Regions from separate parts of the Homo sapiens genome. Here region 2 is linked to region 1. The links come from fine-mapping of genetic effects on gene expression. A gene starts in region 1. The other region holds a variant in brackets. All regions are shown on one strand. Distances are from middle to middle. Region 1 holds the start of CACNG3 (calcium voltage-gated channel auxiliary subunit gamma 3). Region 2 overlaps CACNG3 (calcium voltage-gated channel auxiliary subunit gamma 3).

Region 1 (16,407 bases):
CTCACAGCCCCAAGTGATCTGCCAGCCTCGGCCTCCCAAAGTGCTGGGATTACAGGTGTGAGCCACCGTGCCCAGCCTGTGGTTCTATTTTGGCTGCTGCTCTCTGACATCCATATGCTGTTCTCTTGTGGGCATGATCCCATGAAGAGAGCTTGAGCTCAGTTACTTTCTCAGCATCTACTTGGTACTCAGCACATCTCTGCTACACGAAATCCTGGAAGTGTAAGCTGCTTTGTGATGCTCTCTCTTCCTGCTCTGCAGTGGAAGGTGGTTCCAACCAACCCCTTGCTATCATAGTTCTACAGGTAGAATCCAGGCACCAGCCTCCATGTTCAGGTGTTCATGTGTGCCCCAAACACCAGACAACACTTGCCAATTTCTCCCCAGTAGTCCCACACAATGTTCTGCTGGAACCCACTGCTCTCTTCTAGGTACCAACCTAGAGTCTCCACAGGTTAGCAAGCATCAGGGAGTAGCATGTCAGTCTCCCCTAATCTCTCCAACAAGCTGATTGGGCCTCCTCTTACTTGCTTGGTGGGCGAGAGCTACTCCCTCTTCTATCATGGGGATGGAATAGGAAAAATCCAAAGTACCTTCCTCTCCTAGCCATTTCTCCCACCTCATTGAACTCCAGCCTTCAGTCTAGATCATTGAGATGGGAGTCATCAGAGCGAGGACCACAGAACACACTTGGCCATCTCTTGGTAAATGCTAGGGAGTCATGTGGCAGCTCTTTGGCTCTGGATGTGGGAATATTTCATGCTTATTGTTTTCACCTTTGAGGATTTGGCCAACATTCCAAGCCACTAGGAAGAGCCCCAAACTACATTCTATTTCACTTGATTTTAGGAAGGTTTCCAAAATTTTAGGAAGGTTTTAAGCTTCTTAGTTGTCTATTTGAAGTATTTATATCATCTCTCAATAAAGACACCTTTTGAATCTCTAACTGCCTCTTGGGTCATTTTGTTTTCCTCTTGTGTAAGTCTCAGGGAAACTGATTAACCACGTAATAGCCGTTTGTTATTCTGAAGGTGGCAGATTAAAGCAAATCTCATTAAGAGCCAGCTTCTTTGGCATCATACTTCTATTTATAGCTGCAGCTGACATTTATTGAACACCTAATACGTGCCAGGCACTGTGTTAAGCACTTATGTGTATTATCATATGTAATCCTCATTACACAAGAAGGAGGTTTCATTGACCAAAGATATAGCTTCTATTACTATCCATATTTTATTTATGAGGAAAAAGTGACACTGAAAGATTACATTTCTCAAGGTCACACAACAGATGATGCAATTAGGACTCTAACCCAAGCTTCTCTAGCCCCACATCCCATTTTCTCTACCAATACTATCTGCCATGCTCTAAGTGCAGGGTCTGATGCTTCCATAGATTCAAGTTTTTCTCCTAAAACCTGTTCTGGATTAGAGATGAACAAAGGTTCTTTCTCCTGATTCTTCTGGCAAAGTTTGTCCAAGACACAATTTGGGGGATCTTTATCCTGAGTCTGGTTTCTAAAGTCAAGTCTTGGGGAAATGGCCAATTTCACAACCTCCCCACCTCATACCTCAATCTAGGTGGTGAGAAGAAGAGCAAAGCCCTAGGGAAGCTTGGAGCCAAAGAGATCTGCTATTTTCTTGCCATCTTCCGGGTCTCTGCTACAATTTCTTGTCCCATGGAGCACAGACAAGGCACTGATGTACCACTAAGAAACAAAACAAAACAAAACAAAACAAAAATTTGACCACATCATTCCCCGCTTAAAACCTCTCAATGTTCCCCATAGTTTTCAGGAAACAGTCATATTCCTTAACATCCAAGACATCAATACAATATCTCTTGCCTGAGTTAATGCCACTGCCTCCTAATTCATCTCCAAGCCTTTATTCTTGCCTGTGCCATCCACTCTGTGGCTAGAGTGAAATCTCTGAACTGTAAATCAGATCTTGTTAACTCCCTTGCTTAAAATTGTGCAATGGCTTCACCCTGCAAAAGAATTAACACCCAAACTTCATTTAACCTGGCCAACTAGGGCTATACAGTCTGGCCACAGTCCACTTCCCTAACCTGATTTTCTACCATTTTTCCTCTTGTTTACCATTTGTCTACCACTTGACCATTTCTGTTTTTCAACAAGCTGCATTCATGATCCTTCCACTGGGGATACCTTTTTCTAGATCCTCTTAGAACTGACTCCTCCTTCACTATTGACTTTTCTCAACTCAGAAACCACCTCCCCAGAATGCCCCACTGACCATGCTACCTAAAGCAGTCCTTCTACTGCCAAGATTGGTCATATTGTATCACATTGCTTACGTTTATTTTTTGCAGCATTTTTCACTACCTGCATTTTTTTGTTTGTTTTGTTGGTTGGTTTCATGTTTACTGGCTATCTCCCTCACCTAAAATATAAGCTCTTTCAAAGCAGGGAATCTATCTGTCTTGCTCATTGCTGTACCCTTAGAACCTACAGCAGTGCTTAGCAAATAAGTAGATCTTAATAGATACTTGTTGAGTGACCTAACATGGCTAAAAGTCCCTGAATAATTTGGAATCTGTTTATCTGTAGTGCACAGTGAATAGCTATTATTCTTTACTTCCTACCATTTATCCAACCTTCTTCTGGTAACAGCACCCTCGATTTTCTCTAAAACATCATCCTTTATGCTACTGTCCATCCACATGGATTAAAATAAGGCCAGTTTTCCTTCCTATATGCCCAGAGATTGGAAAGGAAGCCCAAACCTAGAAATCAGTGAATTCCATTTTGTGTCCATTATGATTGGTTCAGGTGGGTATGAACTAAATGAGTCAATGAGAAAGCAGCCCCAAGACATTTACTGTAACTGTTGGTGGAGAGATGTCCTCTTTCTCCTAGGATTGCTCAGCTGGTAAGATGCAAGCCAGGAGCTCTTGGTGCTTGAGAAGACAGCCTGCTAAGTGCAGAGGGGGGAGGTCTGAGATGGAGAGAGACGGACCCCAGAAGCTATAGATATCTACCTTTGGACTTTTAAGTTACATATATTAATTGATTACTTCTGTTTGTCTTATATACTTTAAGTTGGATTTCTGTTAACTGTAACTAGAAGCTTATGACCAATAGGCTACCTCTCTAATTTCATGTCTCCTTGCCTGAATAAATTAGGAATTGTGCTCACCTGCTAAACTTGAAAAGGGGTGAAATACGTGAAAGAGTCTGTTTTCATCATGTAATGAGAATTGTTGAGATAAAAGCTTTTGGCCTGTAGTAGTAGCGCCATAATGCTATCAAGGACTCTGGCTTCTTTCAGTATATCTCTGTTGCCAAGGCTGGAGTGCAATGATATGGGATTATAGCTGACTGCAGCCTCCATGTCCAGGGCTCCAGTGATCTTCCCACCTTGGCCTCCCAAGTAATCAGGATTACAGACATACTCCAGCATACCTGGCAAAAAAAAAAAAAAGAAAACTTTTAGAGATGAGAGGGGATATTGCTATGTTGCTCAGGATGTACTCCTGGGCTCAAGTGAGCCTCCCACCTCAGCCTCCTGAATAGTTGGCATTACAAGCATGAGCCACCACACCTGGATCAGGCTTCTTCTGTTTTATTTTCAGGTATCCTAAACATGTGCTTGTTACCTTATGCAACAACATGGCTGATCTGACTCCACCATTAAGTCCTAGTTCCGGGTAGGAAGAAAGCCAAGAGCAAAAGGTGTCACCTACGTGCTAGCAAAGTCTGTCCAAAAACCTGCTGGGAGGAGATTTTACAGAAAACCCACAGAACAAGTTTGGTTTTCCCTTTCTTAAATTTTGGTAAAATATATATAATATTTGCCATTGTAAATGTTTGTAAGCATACAATTCAGTGGCATTAATCACATTCACAAGGTTATGCAATCATCACCTCTATTTCTAAAATTGTTTCATATATCTAACAAAAATTCTGTAACTATTAAGCAATAACTCCTCATTCCTGTCTCCTCTCAGCCCCTGATAAACTCTAATCTACTGTCTGTCTCTGTGCACTTGCCTGTTTACGTACCTCATATAAATGGAATCATGCCATATTTGTCCTTTTGCATCGGGCTTATTTTGCTTAGCACAATGTCTTCAAGATTCATCCATGTTGTGACATGTATCTGAACTTCACTCTTTTTATGGCTGAATAATATTCCACTCTATGTATATACCACATTATGTTTATCCATTTGTCTGTTGACGAATACTTGGGTTGTTCTCACCTTTTAGCCATTATCTACACTGCAATTTTTGATTACATTGTATCAGTCAGAATTTTATGACAAAACCATCCTACTCTGTGAGGAAAACTGAACAATGTAACTTTATTTCAGCTAGAGAGAGTGTCCCCAGTCACAATTGGAGTCTTATGTAAGAAGAAATAAGGAAAGCCTACTGGGTAAGTAACTAGAAGATTCTGTAACAATCCACTTTTTTTTGCCAGCAAATATCATTATTTGAAAAATATATATTTAGAGGGTACAAATGCAGTTTTCTTTCATGCGTATATTGCATAGGGGTGAAGTAGTGTACCCATCACCCAAATAGTAGTGTACCCATCACCCAAATAGTAAATATTGTACCCAATAGGTAATTTTTTAGCCCTCACCCCCCTCCTACCCTCTTTTGGAGTCTCCAAAGTCTATTTTTTCTACTTTGTATGTCCATATGTACGCATTGTTTAACTCCTACTTGTAAGTGAGAACATGTAGCATTAGGCTTTCTGTTTCTGAGTTATTTTAGTGAGGGTAATGACCTCCAATTTTATCCATATTGCTGCAAAAGACATAATTTCATTCTTTTTTGTGGATGCATAGTATTCTATGGCATATATATATATATATATATATATATATATACACACACACACACACATATATATATCACGTTTTCCTTATCCAATCCTCCATTAATGGACACTTTGGTTTACTTCACATTTTTGTATTGTGAATAGTGCTGCAAAAAACACACAAGTGTGGGTATCTTTTTGATATAATTATTTATTTCCCTTTGAGTATATACCCAGTATACCCAGTAGTGGGATTGCTGATTGAACAGTAGAATAGTAGTCCTATTTTTAGCTCTTTAAGAAATCTTTTTTTCTTTTCTTTTTTTTTTTTTTTTTAAGACAGAGTCTTGCTCTGTCATCCAGGCTGGGGTGCAGTATCGCAATCTCAGCTCACTGCAGCCTCTCTGCCTTCTGAGTTCAAGTGATTCTCTTGCCTCAGCATCCCAAGAAGCCGGCACTACAAGCACATGCCACCACACCTGGATAATTTTTGTATTTTTAGTAGAGATGGGGCTTCACCATGTTGGCCAGGCTGGTCTCAAACTCCTGACCTCAAGTGATCCACATGCCTCGGCCTCCCAAAGTGCTGGGATTATAGGCGTGAGCCACTGCGCCCAGCCGAGATATTTTTATACTGTTTTCCATAGAGGCTGTACTAATTTACATTCCCACCAACAGTATGTAAGCATTTCCTTTCCTCTGCATCCTCACCAACATCTGTTATTTTTTGACTTTTTAATAATAGCCATTCTAACTGGAAAAAGATGATACCCCATTGTGGTTTTAATTTGCTTTTCTCTGATAATTAGTCAGAAAATGTCATTCTATACATAGAATACATTTATCTTTACCCAAAGGACATCACCCCCAAAGTCTCATCCACGTAAAAGGTAAGATTTCTGGGCAGCTTGCAGCCCTCTACAGCAGGTTTGGGTGTGTCCTCTCTTGGTCTAAACTAAAAGACAATTTACTTGCTTCCAGCACATCCATCATTTAATTGTGCAGAAGGAGCCACATAATAAAAAAAAAACTCCTTTTAAAAGCAGAGACTAAAGTACACACAGCAGTCACACATGTATAGAAGTGATCAACTGAGCAAGAATAATATTTGTCTTTCCTAAGAATGGAAGACTTTCCTGGCTGGCAAATCTGTTCCCTTTTCAGAGAGAAACTTCCTTATTCATTACTTTTCATCACCCTACTCTCTGCCCCCTGGAAGGTTCTTCTGTGTCCATCTCTCTCCCTAGATTCATCTGAGGTGGAATTGGAAAGGACAAGCTTCTTGTTGGGCTCAAGGATCTTTTAGGAGTTTAGCTGTTTAGGGATTTAATAGTCTCAGGTTGCTATGTATCAAGCTTGGGAACTGTTTGGGAATGTAGTTCCTTACTATTCCTCCTTGTTGTCTTAGGTAGCATTCCCTAGAAGCAGAGCCTAAGGCAGACATTTGGATGCAAAAGACTTATTGAGAAAGTAACCTTTAGGAAAAACCCCAAGGGAGTATGGGAACAAGCATAAGAAAAGGCAATGATTCTCCAGTTGTGGTTTCCTAAAGAGCAGTATTAATACCTCTTGAGAACTTGCTGAAAATGAACATCTTCAAGCACCACCCACCTTGGAAACTTTGAGGGTGGAGCCCAATAATGTCTCATTCAACAAGCCTTCTAAGCGACTCTAATGCACACTATGGTTTGGCAACCATAGAGGATGGAGATGAAGCCCAACGAGGATGTGGTAGTCTTGGCCTGATCATCGGAAGACTCTAGAGCATAAATTGTATCTCAGAGTTGTCCCTGCCTCTGGGAAGAGGCCAGACTTTTGCACCCTTGTATCTGACTGCAGGGAGAAGGGCTCTAATTCCTCGGGAGAGGCAGCTCCCATCAGCTGAGACCAATTATCCCTGGAAGGGGCAGCTGTGGGTTAGAAAGGTCAGGGCTAGAGGTGTATAAATGAATCAATTCAGTAAAGAGAATCTGAAGAGTGGTGTACCAACAACAACATCTTCTTCTTCTTCTTCTTCTTCTTCTTCTTCTTCTTCTTCTTCTTCTTCTTCTTCTTCTTCTTCTTCTTCCTCTTCTTCTCCTTCTTCTTCTTTTTCCTCCTCCTTCTCCTCCTCCTCCTCCTCCTCCTCTTCTTCTTTGAGACAGGGTCTCACTCTATTGCCCAGGCTGGAGTGCAGTGGCACCATCATGGCTCACTGCAGTCTTGAACTCCCAGGCTCAAAGGACTCTCCTGCCTCAGTCTCTTGAGCGGCTTGGATTACAGGTGTTCACTACCATGCCTGGCTAATTCTAATTTTATTTATTTATTTATTTATTTTTGGAGAGACAAGGTCTCACTATGTTGCCCAGGCTGGTCTCAAACTCCTGGCCTTAAGTGATTCTCCCACCTCAGCCTAGCAAAGTGCTGGGATTACAAGCACAAGCCACTGCATCTGGCCTGCAATTGCTCTTATTGGTCCAATTGTCTCTGTCCTCTTCATGAGACTAAGAGTTTCAAGTGATCAAGAGCAATCTCTTTCCTGCTTGTTATTTGCTCATCAGTGCCTGTCACAGGTGTAAATCTTAATAATTACTTATGCAGTTAGTTGATTAAACAAATACTATTTAAATGCCTACTATATCCTGAGCACTATTCTAGGGTCTGATAATTTAGATTTGAACAAGACAATGCACCTGTTCTCATGGAGTTATTTGGCTTTAGTTGGGAAGATGACAATAAGCACAAAAGCATATATGTACATATATACAGTATAATGTCAGATATTGATAAATGCTATGAAGAAAAAGCAGAGTGAGAGTATAGAGAGAAGTATGGGGTGTTATTTTTAGATAGAGCAGTTAAAGAATTCTCTAAGAAGGTGACATTTGAGCTGAGGTATGAATGAAGTGAGGGATTGAACCATGACAATATCTAGTGGCAGCAATTTGTGTGTAAATTCAAAATTATTTTAAAATAAATGTTTCTTACATATAAAGTATATTCAGGGAAGAGCATTCTCAGCACAGGAAATCAATGGGTGAGTCACAGGAAACACCTGGCATTTCTGTATCAATAAAATAGGAGGTAGTTGGAGGAGAAGGACAGGTGGCACAGTGCTTACTGTTTTTATTTATTTTTGAATTAACTTTAAACTTTTATCAAAACATACATGTATAAGATTTTTAAAATCAGATAGAAGTGGCTGTAGTGAAAAACAACTGTTCTGGTCCCATCCTGTTCATTCTCATTACTCATTTCATTTTATTTTAGTTCATTTCACCTCAACCTCTCTTCTTCTCTTCTCCAAATATAGATTAGAATATTTTTATTTTTATATTGGTTATCTTTAATTTTCAATGACATACCAGATACTCTAGATCTCCTTTTATCAACTCTAGAAGTATATCTTGTCTATTCTCTTTGTATAATAATATCAGGATGTTACATCCTACCATTCCCCTCCTTCTACCTCCAATTTCTATCACTGTCTAGAGAGTAGAAACATAACTTCATGTAATTGGGTTCAAAGAGAGAATAGAGAAAGAAGAGAGAATAGAGAATAGAGAAAGAGAGAGAATACTGAAAGAAGGTTAACAAGACTGAAGTTGAAATAATGATGTGTGAATGTTTTGTAAGCATATTTGGTTTTTAATGCTTTTTTCTATAGGTTGAATCTAAAAGTAGAAAACTCATAACAAGGCTATGTGTGAACATCAAGAGAGAATTCAAGATGGCGGGGATGACACTCTTTAGTCCATGTGTGCCTGGTTTTCATCATCTCCTTGACTTACACACATGTGGGTGCCTTTACCTCTGAAGACTTTTTCTCTTCTAACTGATGATGCTCCATTCTCTTCTGACAAAAGGTAAAGCTGGTTTGGTACCACTGACACCCAGGTTAGTTGGGGTCCAATATCTTCTAAGCCCCATATCCTGCCATGTTGTCTTCTCCTTCGTGGTCACATTTTACTGCTGATCCCATGGACATCACTGGAGTGGTGCCACAAGTAGATCACATAGACTTTTCACAGAAGTCTTCTGAGGTATCACAGAATTTCCCCCTTTTCTAAGAACTATCCTCCCACAACTCACAGGGGCTGGTCCTGATGGCTGCGTTTATAGTACATGACCCTGAATCGTTGGCCACAGCTGCATGGACCAGGAAGTGGCAAGCAACATAAGCTAGGCTGATCAGGTTGTCTCTCCCGGAAATTTTGAATTAGGACTAAAACTTCCCAGTTTAGTCTGGGTGGGTTTCTTAAATAGAGATGACATAAGAACTCAAAATCTAGCTTCTATTTCAAGGATCAAAGAATAGATGAAGCAAAACAATTTTTCAACTAAAAATATGAAAAGAGGCAGAGATGCAAAATGAAGTGACTGTCAAGACTCCTGATGGCATTTTTTTTTTTTTTTTTTTTTTTTTTTTTGCTGGTTCCAGCTCCCTGCCAAGGCCTGATTGAACCTCTGCCCTGTGGTTCCTTGAAACATCGTCATATTCTTGTACTAAATTCCCCATTTTCTTAAGCTAGCTCTGGTAAGTTTTTGCCATTTACAGTCAAAGTGAACTCACTAATAAAATATTCCCAACTGCATAATCTTCTCCCTGGGGGATGGGAATCATATCTTTGTATTCTCCAAGGTGCTGAGCACATAGGGGAATGCCTTGCACATAGTAGGCACTCGAAAAGCATCTGTTGAATTGAAGCAACTGAGAGTACTCCTTCCTAAATGACACAACCATTTACAGGGATCACTGACCCCTCCAGATGTTATGAGAAGATGGACAGGAAAAAGCATAAATAGATACACCGTGCCAACTACTTCACTAGCTGACAGCCCAATAGAAGAAAACAAAAGTCTTAATAAGAGAATCAGACATCAGTTGCAAGATGTCTGAATGTCTCCTAGTCTTCTGCCAGATAAGTGGGATCAGAAAGGGCTATTAGTAGACAAGAGTCTAGCTCCAGCCCGCCCTGGAGAGAGCTCTGAATCTCTTGGGTCCCTCATTGATCTGTTGAAAGAGCCCTCTAGTGGTGAAAATGAGGAACGATCTCTAGCCTTACAAGCAGATTCTACGCGCCCAGGTCCACACACCTACACATTCAATTGAATGAAAGGATGAGGTCACCCCCTAGTAAGTTGGGAGGCATGATAGGGAACAAACTGCGGCCTCCCTGCCTCCACACTCCCACTCCGTTCAGTTGTTCTGACTTGCTCCACATGCAGGCTCGGGACTTCCCACAGTGATCAGGTTGGCCCTGGACAGCAATTCCAAAGAATGAGCCTGCCTCACCAAGTCAGAGGCTCAGGACAAAGCTCCAGTTTTATCACATGTATCCCTTTCTCTTATTCAGCAAAACTGGGTGCATCCTGACCCATAATTGTTACCTTCATCTACCTGAGCTCCTGATCCTTTTCCCCCAACTATCCTTCTGCTAGGCTCCTGGGCACCATACTCTGCTTGTCTGCGCTTCTGTTGTAGAGCTAAGTGGGTGGAGATGAAGATGCTGCTGTTCCACTGTGGGTCTGGTAAATGGAGAGATTGGGGCATACTGTCCCTTAGCCCGAAGCTCACTCACCTTTCATCAACATGGTCCTTCTTTGAAAGAAGACCTTTCTCACTTCTATCCAAGCAAGAGAAGAATCAAACAGATCCTGAAATGACTGCTTTGATCATTAGTAATTATTTCATCTTATTTACCTTTCTGAGAGTGGGGAGAGAAATTTTTGCTAACTGAATTAATCCCTCCCAAGAAATACCAACCTCACCTCCATGTTACATATGGCTTTCCCTTAAAAAAGAAAGGTAATAACAATCAAGGCAGGATATTTTTATTAAGATGCAAATTTTCATTTCAGGAAAGAAAATGACACTAAGAAACTTGTAGGGGCCCTCGTGTATCCTCTCCCTACTATCTTCTGTCATTCTTCTGGAGTACGGCTGTGGTGCTGGCCCCAAGTTTATCCATTCCATTGTGGATTATGTGGCAAGATTTCAGTATTTCTACCTCCTGTCCATAAATCAGTGTTTTTGAACCACGACACATGCATATGCAACTAAATGCTCATAGGTATACACACCTACATATTCAAATCTATACTATACCTACACACGTGCATGCATACACATACATGTGCAAATATGTATGCATATGCATAGCAAAAATGCTAGGCATTTGCAGCAAATATGTTCACATGGTCCATAACACTGTCTGCAGGTACAAACATACATTTACATACTTGCTTTACTTCTATGACGGATTCACAGGCATTCAGAATTTATAACTAAACTGAACATAGCACAGGTGAGCATTCAAACACAATCACTCCACAGCTATATATTCAAACTTCCTCCTGCACATGAGTATTTATCTAACACCAAGAATAAAGTCTTCAGTCTTAACACCAAAATGAAAGTAGCAAAGTCACCAAGAAGTTGTGAGCTGCATTTGCGAACCCTTCAATATATTCCTGCTACCCAGTCACCTGAATAGAAGTTCCCAGGCAGCCAGAGATGGCACCAGGGGAGTATGTTTGTCTGCGATTACCTCCCGTTATATTTCTGTCCAGCTAAATAACATTCAAACATGACAGTTGGTTGCGGACACATCTCAGGAACTGTGGAAACAACCCAAGCAACCTCATTTCCAACTATCTGACCTCTGGATATCAGTCCCAGGATGCCATAAGAAAAAAAATAATAAGGGCATTTCTGTGGGCTGTTTCTAGTCAACTCGGTGTGTGCCCATGCATATGCCGGAATACATAGTAATAAAAAGCTGGTTAAATGCTGGTCCTTTGCAATACTGGCTATTTCCAAGGAAGAGAGCTTTCAGGTGTGCAATGCCATTTGCCCTTTGGACTAACAAGCAAAGCAGACCTAACTTCACCTGCTTCATGGTCTCACTTAGATAACAATGTTAACAAATGATATCTCAGAGACCTTTGAACAAAATCTGACATTTTCAGTGACTCTCCCACCATGAATCCATCACCCCCTTCGATGTAGATATGTTAAAATGTATAAAAGGCATATTCAAAGGCCAAAATCTTATAGTCTTTTGCCCAAGGTCCCTAATATGTGTATGACAGAGTCTATGTATATTTAGCTTCTTCCATCTTTTAGGAATACATGATCATGTATATATGAACAGTTCCGGGTCTGATCTGAGCGGGTTGTCTTCGGTGTAAACCAGAGCTCCAGAGAAAGGAGGGTAGACATATTGGTTTGTTTGCTGGGGAACCAAATTGAGACAGACTCTACACAGATGTGATTGTGACAACACTTTTTGCCCGCCTAAGCGAGCCATAGAGCCGTCTCCAGAGCTGCCGGTGCCTTTAAGAAGACTCGGTCTTTCGGGTCTTCTTTTTCCCCAATGGGCTCCAGTGGTGCCCGCAGCAAAAGGCAAACTTGCCTGGCTCATGGGGTGAAAGGGAGGATTGAAGAATGCCGCGTTGGGTGGGTGCTGAGGGAGCGCCAGAGTGCGCTACGGGCTTCGCTCCCCTTCCCCTTTCCTTAACCCTTCCTAGAGCGGAGGAACCGGGTCGTGCTGCAGCGCCCAGGAGCCAGGGCGCTGACTGTCCTCGGCTCCAGAAACTTTGCGCGGAGAGTGGGCTTGACTGGGCAGAGCCGAGCCGGCTGGCTGACCCGGGAAGGAACGGGGGAAGGGCGGGGTGAGGGAAGAAAGACCCTTTAGCACCCCGGGTTTCTAGCCCGGGCGGCGGTGTGCAGCTGCATGAGGGAGCTGTCCCTTCGGCACCACGGACCTTAAAGCCTAGGCGTTAAGACGACGGAGGCGGGGCAACAGGCGGGGAGCTGTCCCTTCAGCACCACGGACCTTGGCGCCCCCAGGGAAACCAGCCGGCCCCCGCCCCAGGACTCTGTCTTTTCTCCAGTTTGAGCGGGGGTGTCGGGAGCAGGCGGAGAGCTTTCCTGCGAGGCTGTGGAAGCAGTGAACACTCTTCTCAGCGGCTCGCCTCCCAGCAGTGCTATTTTTTGCCATCCGCCCTCACCCCCAGCACACGCGCTCGCACACACACGCACGCACGCACACACACACACACACACACTCACACAGAGACCTCTCTGGGTTTCTTTGCCTTGAGTCTCCCGGGGCTGTGAGAAGCCAGGCGCATCTCAAACCGAGCTGGCAGCTCCAGGCTCCGGAGCCATGCCCTGCACGGACCCTCGTCTTTACCACGCTCCTGAGGAATGAAAGGAACCCAGGGACCCTCAGAAGGCAGCAGTGATGCGGACCAACCCCCCGGAGCCTGCACCCTTCCGAGGGCCATAGGCGACCCAGGGAACTGGAGAGAGCTCCAGAAAGGAAATCCCAGCTTTCCCAAAGTCCCTGTGGATGCTGACAAAAGGAGACCTGAATTTTTGGAAGAGCCTGTACTAGGTTACCCGGCTGCAGAGTGATTTTCCCCTCCGGCACTGACTCTCCCCCTCCAACCCCCAGCCGTCCAGAGTACCATGAAGAATTATGAGGATGTGTGACAGAGGTATCCAGATGTTGATCACCACTGTAGGAGCCTTTGCCGCTTTTAGTTTAATGACCATTGCAGTGGGCACGGACTACTGGTTATATTCCAGAGGTGTGTGCAGGACTAAATCTACAAGTGATAATGAAACCAGCAGGAAGAATGAAGAAGTAATGACCCATTCGGGGCTGTGGAGGACCTGCTGCCTAGAAGGTATTTACAATTTCCTCTCAATAGCTCTGAATAATCCAGTTCTGATATTCTGGTGGGTGTTTGGAGGAGATGGAAATGGTGATAAGGAAAGAAGAGAAGTTCAAATTATTGCTGAGAATGTGCAGGTGCCCAGACTCTGTTAACAGCAAGACTGACGCCATGTGGGTTAAAGGGGTTGGGTCTTGTTGATTGTTTTTAGTATAAGCTTCATGAGATGAGATTTTTGTCACACTCTAGGCAGCTTCTGCAGTTTAGAAAAGTCTTCAAATCCAAAATCCCTAGGCATATTGTCAACTGCTTGGATCTCTGGCTTGAGATGGGGTCTTTAACCCTGCTTAAATTGGATTTCGAAGGGAGGGGGAGGGAAGGGAGGAGAAGGGACAAGAGGAAAGAAGTGAGGGGGGAGAGAGAGAGAGAGAGAGAGAGAGAGAGAGAGAGAGAGAGAGAGAGAGAGAGAGAGAGATCCTGACCCGGTCTGGCACATTCTGAGCTATTTCATTATTTCTCAACATAGACTTATCAGTTTCTCCTGAGTTTGCTCTAACTAGATATTGTCATGAACTTCCACTGCCAATCAGTAACAGGGTAACATATGTAAACCCCTACTCCCACCCACACCCTATGCACACATTTTAAGAAAAAATCCTTATTGATACATGTTTTATTAGTTTGGATCACAACAAAACTGAAGTCTTGGTATTTTGTATCCACCTGTCTTCATTCCTAAATCATTCCCAAACCCCTAAAAAGGTATTTCCATGACATTTACAAAAGACTGATTCTCCAAGAATTGCAGTTCGTCATTTCTAGTTCTAAAAATTAGGGAGTAGTTATAACTTATAATGAAGAAGAAAGAGCAATTTAAAAATATAAAGCCCTTTTGTAGCCTATCACACTATTAAACTTGCTTTCACCACACCAGAAGTCACTCTCAGCACCAGTAGGCAATGCTTGGATATCACTGGGAGTAAATAGAAAGATAAGGAAGAAAATCAAAGCTCTTTGGAGCCTATGTGCCTGAGGGAAGTCACTGGATTAGAGGGGCAGTAGGGGTTTTCTTAGGCTTCCGAGAAATCTGTGAAGCTTGTCACAGTGGTGGGCAAGGAAATCTGCGTTTCCTGTGTGGTCCCCTCCCCTGCTTGCCATTGGTTCTTCACACTGCATTTTCACTGGCTGGCATTTGTCAGGGCTTCTTGAGAACTTGCATTTATGTAAATCGCTTGGGAAATCATGCTATGACATCACTTGCCAGTGTAATATTGCATCATTCTCTGGCCTTTTTCCCATGTCCTGACACTTTGAACAACTGCTCTCCTGACCGTAGCGCTACTACAATTGATTCTGTTTCTAACACAAATTTGCAACTGGTGGGAAGCCCAGGTAGGAAAGGGCTACCTTTAATGCAGCAAGGATCATGTGAAGTCAGAAGACCTGGGTAATGCTGCAAAGTATCGCTGTGGCCTTGGTTAAGACATTTACCCTCTCCAACTCTCAGTTTATTCATCTGGGAAATGATACGTTTGGATTAGGTGGTCTTGAATTAACATTATCTAAAGCTTATACTGTATTCAATATACTGACAGAAATTCTAGAATAATTATTTCCTAAACAATGACAAAAGTTGGATATTTGTGAGCATTTGTGATTGGGTATGGTGAAGTCATTTACCTCAGGGAAATTCCATATTTCCCTTTCTTATATTGGCTATAAGGAATTGAATTATCTTTTGTAAAACTGATTTGGTGGATGTTGCGATATCTACATGGTTCTAGAGATGGCATAGAAGTTCTAAGGTTCCTCCAAGCCAAAAATGGCACATATGTATACAGTGCTTTAGCCATTTCCAATTCTTCTGCCTCTGGGAATCAAACCTGAGAATGCACAATTAAAAATGAAGTTTGACGTTCCTCATTATGATCTATGAAAAAAATATATATCTATAAGAGCAGAGGTAGGACCTAAAATTTCTAAACACTTGCTAAGAATTTCTCAACTGATGATTTCTCTTTTTTCCAACATCAAGTCCTACACCCACAGTTTGTACAAGGAATTGAAACCCCAGCCAGGCATTCTGTAGGCTTAGTGGGAGAAGTGAGAAATTGAATCAAGAAGGAATTGGATGAATTGAAGACATAACCTTGGGCAGGTGAATTCTATTGAGAAAATGTGTTGCAGTCCCCATACAACTTGGCCTGGCTTTTTTTGTTGTTGTTCACTTTTTTGAAGTATTAAATACAGTAAGATGCACAAATCACAATGAATCACAATAAAATATTAGCTATGGCTGCACCCATGTAATTAACACCTAGGTGGGTCCTGGCTGAAATTTGAAGCCAAGATGTGTACTAAACACATCAAGTGTTTGGGGAATTTGCAGAAGCCTCTGATTTCTGCATGGGAAGTCACATGCAGTTGGTAGCATCCATCCCAGGCATTTCCATCCTTTGCTAGAATGAAGATGAACAGTCCTTTCCCATTCAGTATTTCTTACCTACACCTGAGCCTCAAAATCCTCATTTTCTGGTCCTTTAAGTGTCAAATGAAAACTGGGGGTTTTCGTAGCTCCATTTTCTTAGAGGTCAAATTAGAAATGTTTGTTCTTCTGTGCTTTTTTAAAGAGCCATGAGACAATGTGATTATTTTATCCAAAAGAAGAGAATGCCAAGGAGAACATGACAGCTGTCTGCAAATATCTGAAGGGCTGTCATATGAAAGAGAGATTTGAGATGTTCTGTGTGGCCTCAAGGAGGTAGAAGTAGGAGCTAGAGGAAACCAGGTTTTACCTCAATATAAATAACTATCCAATGTGGAATGGGAAGCTTTGGCAGGTGATGGGTCTTCCAACACCAAAAATATTCAAGAATAAGCAAACTACATCGTTTCCCAACTTTGCTGGTCATCAGATTCTCATGAGGAACTTTTAAAAAATTAGATTA
Region 2 (8,000 bases), 93 kb after region 1:
GCTCCAATGCCTGAACTTAAAGCTGTGCTCTTCTCTGCATCCTGACTTCATCCTTGCAGTCTGCATGTTTTCACCATCTCTCTTGGTTCCATCTTCTACAGTGGGTGGGCAAGTCCAATCTCATTCTACTTTTCTAAGATTTACTGATATGGGAGGATACTCCTAAGAAAATATAAGTGAGAAGAACAGCACGATCCCAGTTTTGTAAAGCCATTTGTGTGCGAAAGCACAGGGGAAAAAAAGCCTGGAAGGAAATATACAAAAATGCTAAATAGTGGTTATTTCTGGGAGCCAGCAATATGCTACTTACATGAATGTCCAAGCTCACTTTGTGATGCATGTATGACATGGGTTGCCAGCAGATTCATTTTCAGTGTGGAGTCTTCCTTGGGGAAAATTCTTGATTCCTTTTCCTTCTATATTGCTTCTTAAAATCTCACCATGGCGCCAATGTGTCTCTTGTGATCCTAAAGTACCTACCAAAACCAACGGTAATAATAGCTGTAATATACTGAGTTCCTACCATACTCCAGGAACTGTACTAAGTGCTTTATGTCATTGCCTAATTAAAAGATTTATGTGTAAAGTGCTGAGAACAGCAACTGGCGTAATAACTGCTATTACTGCCTCAACTAATTCTCATGGCAACTCCATGAAGTTACTATTATTATCTTCATTCTGTAGAAGAAGGAACTGAGGTTTGGAGAGGTAATTTGCCATAGATACCACAACTAGTAAGTGGCTGAGTCAGGATTCATGCCTACGTGGGACACCAAAGACTGGGCTCTTACTAAATACATTTTGGTTCGGGGGTTGCAAACTCAAATATCTACAGGGCCAGGCAAGAATATAGAGCCAGGTGGGGACTTTGGCCAACTGGAGAGTTTACACCCAGTCTAAAGAGGGCTGCTGATGTCAGCTACGTCATCCAGGGATTCATTACTCCCGCATGGAAATGTGAGACAGAGGTCCCCATTTTTGAAGAGAAACTGCGAATCAGTTTTTAATGTGAAATATTCAGAATTTTAAATTGCAGCAGCATAGGCCAGGAGCGGTGGCTCACGCCTGTCATCCCAGCGCTTTGGGAGGCTGCAGCAGGCGGATCACCTGAGGTCAGGAGTTCAAGACCAGCCTGGCCAACATGGTGAAACCCTGTCTCTACTAAAAATACAAAAATCAGCCGGGCATGGTGGCACGCGCCTGTAATCCCAGCTACTCAGGAGGCTGAGGCAGGAGAATCACTTGAACCCAGGAGGTGGAGGTTGCAGTAAGCTAAGATTGCACCACTGCACTCCAGCCTGGGTGACAAAGCAAGACTCCATCTCAAAATAAAATAAAATAAAAATAAAATAAAATGCAGAAGCTTACTTAATTTTTAAAAATAAAATGTGCAAAAGAGTATTGCAGGTAAAACAAACACACACAGATTAAACCACAAAATGAAACAGTCTGCAACCCAGATTTGCGCCAGAAGCCAATATTATCTACTTTAGAAACACCAGCCTAGATTACATCTTCTATCCCAGGAAGGCCCAAACTCCCCTTTGCTTTCCATTTTTGCCTTCTTGGGACAGAAATCTTTAAACCGGGGACCAGCAAAATTGTTGTTAAACAGCCAGAGAGTAAATATTTTCAGCTTTGCTATCTCTGTGGCAAATACTGAACTCTGTTATAGTGGCATCAACATGTTTTATTTTCTTTTGTTCTCAAAATGGCTTCATGAGGAGCCTAATGTTATAATGAGGAAATTGAAGCAATATAAACAAATGGGCACGATTGTGTTTCAATAAAATTTTATTTTCCGACGCTGAAATCTGAATTTCACATTTTTTTGCAGGTCACAAATAATATTCTTTCGATTTTTTTTTCAACTATCTAAATATGCAAAAACCATTCTTGGCTCATGGGCTGTACAAACGTGGGTAGTAGTAAGCTGCTTTAGACCATTAAAAACTGGTGACTGCAGGCCAGGCGCAGTGGCTCACCCCTGTAATCCCAGCACTTCAGGAGGCTGAGGCAGGTGGATCAGCTGAGGCCAGGAGTTCAAGACCAGCCTGGACAATATGGCAAAACCCTTTCTCTACTAAAAATAAAAAATTAGCTGGGCATAGTGGTGCATGCCTGTAGTCCCAGCTACTTGGGAGGCTGAGGCAGGAGAATCGCTTGAACTGGGGAGGCGGAGGTTGCAGTGGGCTATGATTACACCATTGCACTCCAGCCTGGGTGACAAGAGCGAAACTCTGCCTAAAAAACAAACAAACAACAACAACAAAACTAGTGACTGCGTCTCCAGGAGCTACTGGCGTTTGCTGGTTCTAAGTCTTAGTTTCAAGCTGCCTGAAGTCACCATGAATAGGCCCATTTCACAAGCAGATGCCCACGTGTATGTAGTTCCGAATTCCCTCAGTAATTCTGACTGGTCTGTATTTAGTAAGGTTCCCATTCCATCTTCACCTGAACACTTTCTTCCTTTGAAATCTTTCGTGGAAAACAGCAAATAATGAGGAGTACGGAAATCAACTAACAATGGATGGTGTCACTACCAACACCCTTCCCCTGCCCAGGTGCCCCTGGGACATGCCATGGGGAAGCATAGTTAATGGAGAAGCCACTGGTCCAGTTCATTGCCAACATCAATAGTAGGGGGTAGGCTATAAAATGATCATGAAGCGACCAGGCAAAGAACTTAGTTCACAATACAGACTTGTTGAAGAGAGTGTAATTCATAATAGTAGTTAGGAACTTTGTCTTTGGGGTCAGCTGGTAAATGTCAAGCTGTGTCCTTGAGTAAATCGGTGACTTGGCTAAGCTTCAATTTCCTCCTCATATTAATAACATTGCCTCATTATAACATTAGGCATCTCAGGCCGGGCACAGTGGCTCACACCTGTAATCCCAGCACTTTGGGAGTCTGAGACGGGTAGATCAGGAGGTCAGGAGATCAAGACCATCCTGGCTAACACAGTGAAACCCCGTCTCTACTAGAAATACAAAAAATTAGCCAGGCATGGTGGCAGGCGCCTTTAATCCCAGCTACTCAGGCGGCTGAGGCAGGAGAATGGCGTGAGCAGAGCAAGCAGTGAGCCAAGATTGCGTCACTGCACTCCAGTCTGGGCGAGATTCCGTCTCAAAAAAATAATAAATAAATAACATTAGGCACCTCATAAAGTCATTTAGATAGCTAAAGAGGATAAAACACGTAAATGTGGCCAGGCGCAGTGGCTCACATCTGTAATCCCAGTGCTTTGGGAGGCTGAGGCGGGTGGTTCACCTGAGGTCAGGGGTTCAAGACCAGCCTGGCCAACATGGTGAAACCCTGTCTCTACTAAAAATACAAAAATTAGCCAGGCCTGGTGGTCGGGAGGCTGTGGCACAAGAATCGCTTGAACCTGGGAGGTGGAGGTTGCAGCGAGTTGAGATCGTGCCACTGCACTCCAACCTGGGCAATAGAGCAAGACTCAGTCTCAGAAAAAAAAAAAAAATGCATAAATGCTTAGAATGGTACCTGGTATATAGTAGGTGCACACGTGTGTTACTTATTATGATTTCTTATCCAGTCAACTGGAAGGGGATGGGGCTTAAAACCAAACAGGCATATATAAATGAAACTCTAAAATATGAACAAGCATGAATAAGGTCTTTTTTTCCCAATATCAGGGAAGAAATTATGGGTCTGTCTTTTTTCTAAGAATTTCCTTGAGTCTTCTCTCCTGAACCTCCTTCCTGGTTCTGAGTCTATTATTTGCCTGGTAAGCGGAGAATCAGAACCAAGGAGATGTTCTACATATCCCAAGGCATTTATTATGAAATGGCTCTGGCCTGGAGCCTACTTATAGTAGAAATTAAATATATGACACTCTTATTTTTATGAGATCATAATAGACATCATGATAGTAGCCATGGTAGCCATAATAATAACGGCTACTATTCATAGTGTAATGGTGAAACTACACAGCCTTTGAAACCTGGATCCAAAAATCAATTCCGTCACTCACCAGCTGTGACACCATCTCCTCTGTGATTTTCCATTGTCTCATTATCAAATGTTAATACTAATAGCCTCTACCTCCTGGGGTGGTAAACAAGGGTAAATGAGATAAGGGGTGTAAGGTTTCAGCTATGTGCCTGGCCAATTGGAAGCACTTAATAAGTGTCAGCCATTATTATGACATGCCTAGAGCTTTGCAAAAATTATCTCATGTTCATGTATAGCTTTATTTCATTCTTACAATAACAGTTCTGAAATACCAACGCAGCTCTGTCTGATTC[C/T]GAACCTTGTCCGTTTCCCACGACATCACAATGCCCGCCCCCCTGATTCCACTCCAGCTACACAGACAGGGAAAGGGACAAGAATGCATAATTTCTGGAAAATTTTTTGTCCTTTAAAAGAACTGGCAGAGCTATTAACTGCCCCCAGAGACTGGTTAACTGTCTAGTTAACTAACACCCAAAATGATGATTAAACATCCACACCTCAGCCGGGCAAGGTGGCTCACGCCTGTAATCCCAGCACATTGGGAGGCCGAGGCAGGTGGATCACCTGATGTCAGGAGTTCGAGATCAGCCTGGTCAACATGGTGAAACCCATCTCTCCTAAAAATACAAAAATTAGCCGGGCATGGTGGCAGGTGCCTGTAATCCCAGTTACTCGGGAGGCTGAGGCAGGATAATCTCTTGAACCCGGGAGGCAGAGGTTGCAGTGAGCCGAGATCGTGCCATTGCAATCCAAACTGGGCGACAAGAGAGAAACTCTGTCTCAAACAAAACAAAAAAGACAGCAAATGTGGACGGATGTTCAAGATGCATGTTCAGCAAATCTGAGGCTCCCAAAGGGGTGAACCTCATAGCGAGGGAGATGAGCTGTGATCCTTTGGGAGGGCAGAGAGGGAAAGGGAGTGTCCTGTGGTCAGATATGAACATCATTGGGGAGAGTGGACTATTCTGGAATGCCTGGACTCAGCTCTTGATTGGAATGCCGGTTCTATTTAGGTTGGTGCAAAAGTAATTGCACAACTGCACAATTACTTTTACATCAACCTAAATAGCTACTTACCTGAGTGATTTCAAGAAAAATTCTTAAGCCCTGTTTCCTCATTGGTAAAATGAGCGAAAAAAATGATGTACTTGAATTCTGCCTGCTTTTTCCTTCACTGACTGGAGGAGAGGGGAAAGATAAGATAGTCTTCATAATTAGTGTTTATGTTTCATGGTGTTTTTGCGCTTCTGAAGTGGATCCCAACATCATGCAAAATCTAAAAAGCAGCAAATTTCCATCTCCTGCTTTGTATTGTTTATCTTTTGCCTCTACTGGTCTCTTTTTTGTGCCCTAAAGAAACATGCTGTTGATGACTGATCCCGTTGGCTCATGCCTGTAATCCTAGCACTTTGGGAGGCTGAGGAAGGGAGGATCGCTTGTGGCCAGGAGTTTGAGGCCAGCCTGGGCAAGATAGTGAGACCTTTTGTTGTCACTATCAAAAAATGTTGAATTAGCCAGGCATAGTGGCACATGCCTATAGTCCCAGCTACTTGGGAGGCTGGGGTGAGAGGATCACTTGAGCCCAAGAGTTCAAGACTGCAGTGAGCCATGATTGCACCACTGCACTCCAGCCTGGGCCACAGAATGAGACCCTGTCTCTAATAAAAAATAAAGGTGCTCTTGGGCCTACCAGCCCAACAACCCTACAGCCCCCAACAACCAGAGAAAGGATCTGCACATAGCGGTGAGGACCCAGGCTGGCCCCCAGAGCTCTGTCTCCTCCCCCAGGCTCAGAACCCTTATCTGTTTCCACAGGGGCTTTCCGAGGCGTGTGCAAGAAAATCGATCACTTCCCTGAAGATGCTGACTACGAACAGGACACAGCCGAATATCTCCTGCGTAAGTTCCCCGGCTTCTCGGGTCTCTCTGGGAGGAAGGGATGGGCCTCTGCCATCACTCAGCTGCCTCTGAGTCGGAGCTTCCTCAGCATCTGTCCCTAGAAATAGATAAGTGCAAAGAAGCCCCATGTGCCAGTACACAGAGACACTCAAGTGGTTCTGAGAGCTAAGCCTCTTTAGTTTCAATGAATTAGAAACAGAAAGAAGAAGCAGGGGGTAGGGTGGGGGATGGTTCATGCCTGTAATCCCAGCACTCTGGGAGGCAGAGGCCAGAAAGGATCGCTTGAGCTCAGGAGGTCGAGATCAGCCTGGGCAATATAGCAAGAACCCATCTCTACAAAAAATTAAAAAATTAGCTGCATGTGGTGGCACACACCTGTAGTCCTAGCTACTCAGGAGGCTAAGGTGGGAGGATCATTTAAGCCCAGGGGATTGAGGCTGCAGTGAGCTATGATCATACCACTGCAGTCCAGCCTGGGTGACAGAGTGAGACCCTGTCTCTGAAAAGAAAGAGAAGGAGAAAGAAAAGGAGAATGAGAATGAGAAAGAGAAAGAGAAAGAGAAGGGAGGAAGGAAGGAAGGCAGGAAGGAAGACAGAAAAGTAGGTGAGTCAAAACTGAAAGGTTCTTTTTAGTCAGTTTAGGAGAAAAATCTAAGGAACTTTCTCTAACTTGAATGCAAGTTTTCACTTTCCCAGGAGGGTTGATTGGAGGTGCTAATGGCAGAGTGCTAATGGGTGATGTGAGGTGCTAATGGGTGAGGTCCCAAGGAGCAAGACCTAGGAGAATAAATACAAACCCAAGTTCACCTCTTCTTTGACTTCCCTCCAGTTTCAGTCCTACTGGGACAGAGCCAATGTCTCTGTAGGATTTTTCCAAAGTCAGTAACCTGGATATGACATGAACCGTCACAACTACAGCATGTAGGAGCCAAAAGAATGTGGTGGCTTTGAGCCAAGGCCTCTGGAATCTGGGCTTTGACCCTTGTTTGACTCTACTAGCTGGGTTGGACTTGAGGCAAGGGGCTTTACCTCTCTCTCTAGTTCCTACCTTTCTTCATTTTTTTCTGAAATGGAGATTATAATGTCATCCATCTGACAGGGTCACAAAAATTAGCCGGGGCCCAACACATAGTCAGGAGGCAATATGCATTAGCTCCCGTTTCTTGCATGGGATTAGCAATGCAAAATTCACTGCAGAGATGAGCCTTCCATTGGTCAAGGCACAGAGAGAACTTGATTTGGGATTTTAATGTAATTTCTTCAGCAAGAATTTGTGTTGGATTCACTCAAAATAGTGAGGCCAAGTGCAATGGCTCACACCTGTAATCTCAGCACTTTAGGAGGCCAAGGTGGGAGGATCACTTGAAGCCAGGAGTTCAAGACCAGTCTGGGCAACATATTAAGTCGCCAACTCTACAGAATTTTTTTTTTTTTAATTATCCAGGCATGGTAGTGCACACCCTTAGTCCCAGCTACTTGGGAGGCTGAGGTGGGAGGATTGCTTGAGCCCAGGAAGCTGAGGCTGCAGTGCCATTGCAGTGATCGTGCCATTGCATTGATTGTGCCATTGCGCTAATCAATAATATTGATTAGTGACTGGCTACACGGTGTGGAGGATAGTGTCAGATGCAGCATTATTAGGTTAATTTATGCTACTTGTGGCAAAAGCCAGCAATTTCAAGAGATGAGTACCCAGCTCAAAGAGGAGAGAAGGATGTGATCACTGTCTCATTGTAATGTCTCTCTGGGCCTGATAATTAAAAGGACTTGCGTTACTCAGATAAAAGTTGTTTTCTTTTCTCACCCCTCACATCAGCAGCTCAAAAAGATTCAGTGTGGAGAGCAAAATTAGCCACACTTAGAGATGTAGCTTAACCAAAATTTGGGAGATGACACAGATCACTTGCATCTTCTCAATAGAGAATGGCATTAGTCATCACCAGTGGGGTTTTACCAGAGTGCCCATAGATTTTCTTTGTTTTTCTTTTTCATGTTGATAAAACATGTTGACGTTTGCTCTGTCGGAGACTAAACAGAACTGTGACTTCTCTTCACAACTTGTATAGCTGATTTTAAGTTCTTCAGAGAGGCCCATAGCTTTTCTGACAAAGTATTTTTTTCTCGT

What was found.
Region 2: its variant is fine-mapped to the expression of CACNG3 in testis (GTEx, PIP above 0.99).

Annotation. Positions count from the first base shown.
Region 1 is chr16:24,243,495-24,259,901 of GRCh38, forward strand. CACNG3 (calcium voltage-gated channel auxiliary subunit gamma 3) reads left to right here and starts at 12,841. Exons shown (of 4, transcript NM_006539.4): 1 at 12,841-13,471. The coding sequence starts at 13,261. It overlaps LINC02194 (long intergenic non-protein coding RNA 2194), which reads left to right. Exons shown (of 4, transcript NR_146569.1): 2 at 4,338-4,402; 3 at 8,439-8,637; 4 at 9,213-9,366. RefSeq lists enhancers at 2,816-4,015, 12,589-13,316.
Region 2 is chr16:24,340,943-24,348,942 of GRCh38, forward strand. It overlaps CACNG3 (calcium voltage-gated channel auxiliary subunit gamma 3), which reads left to right. Exons shown (of 4, transcript NM_006539.4): 2 at 5,792-5,875. Among named protein-coding and RNA genes, the nearest start is that of CACNG3, 89 kb to the left of the region's middle. RefSeq lists an enhancer at 2,590-3,091. The variant C/T (reference allele first, on the strand shown) is at 4,270.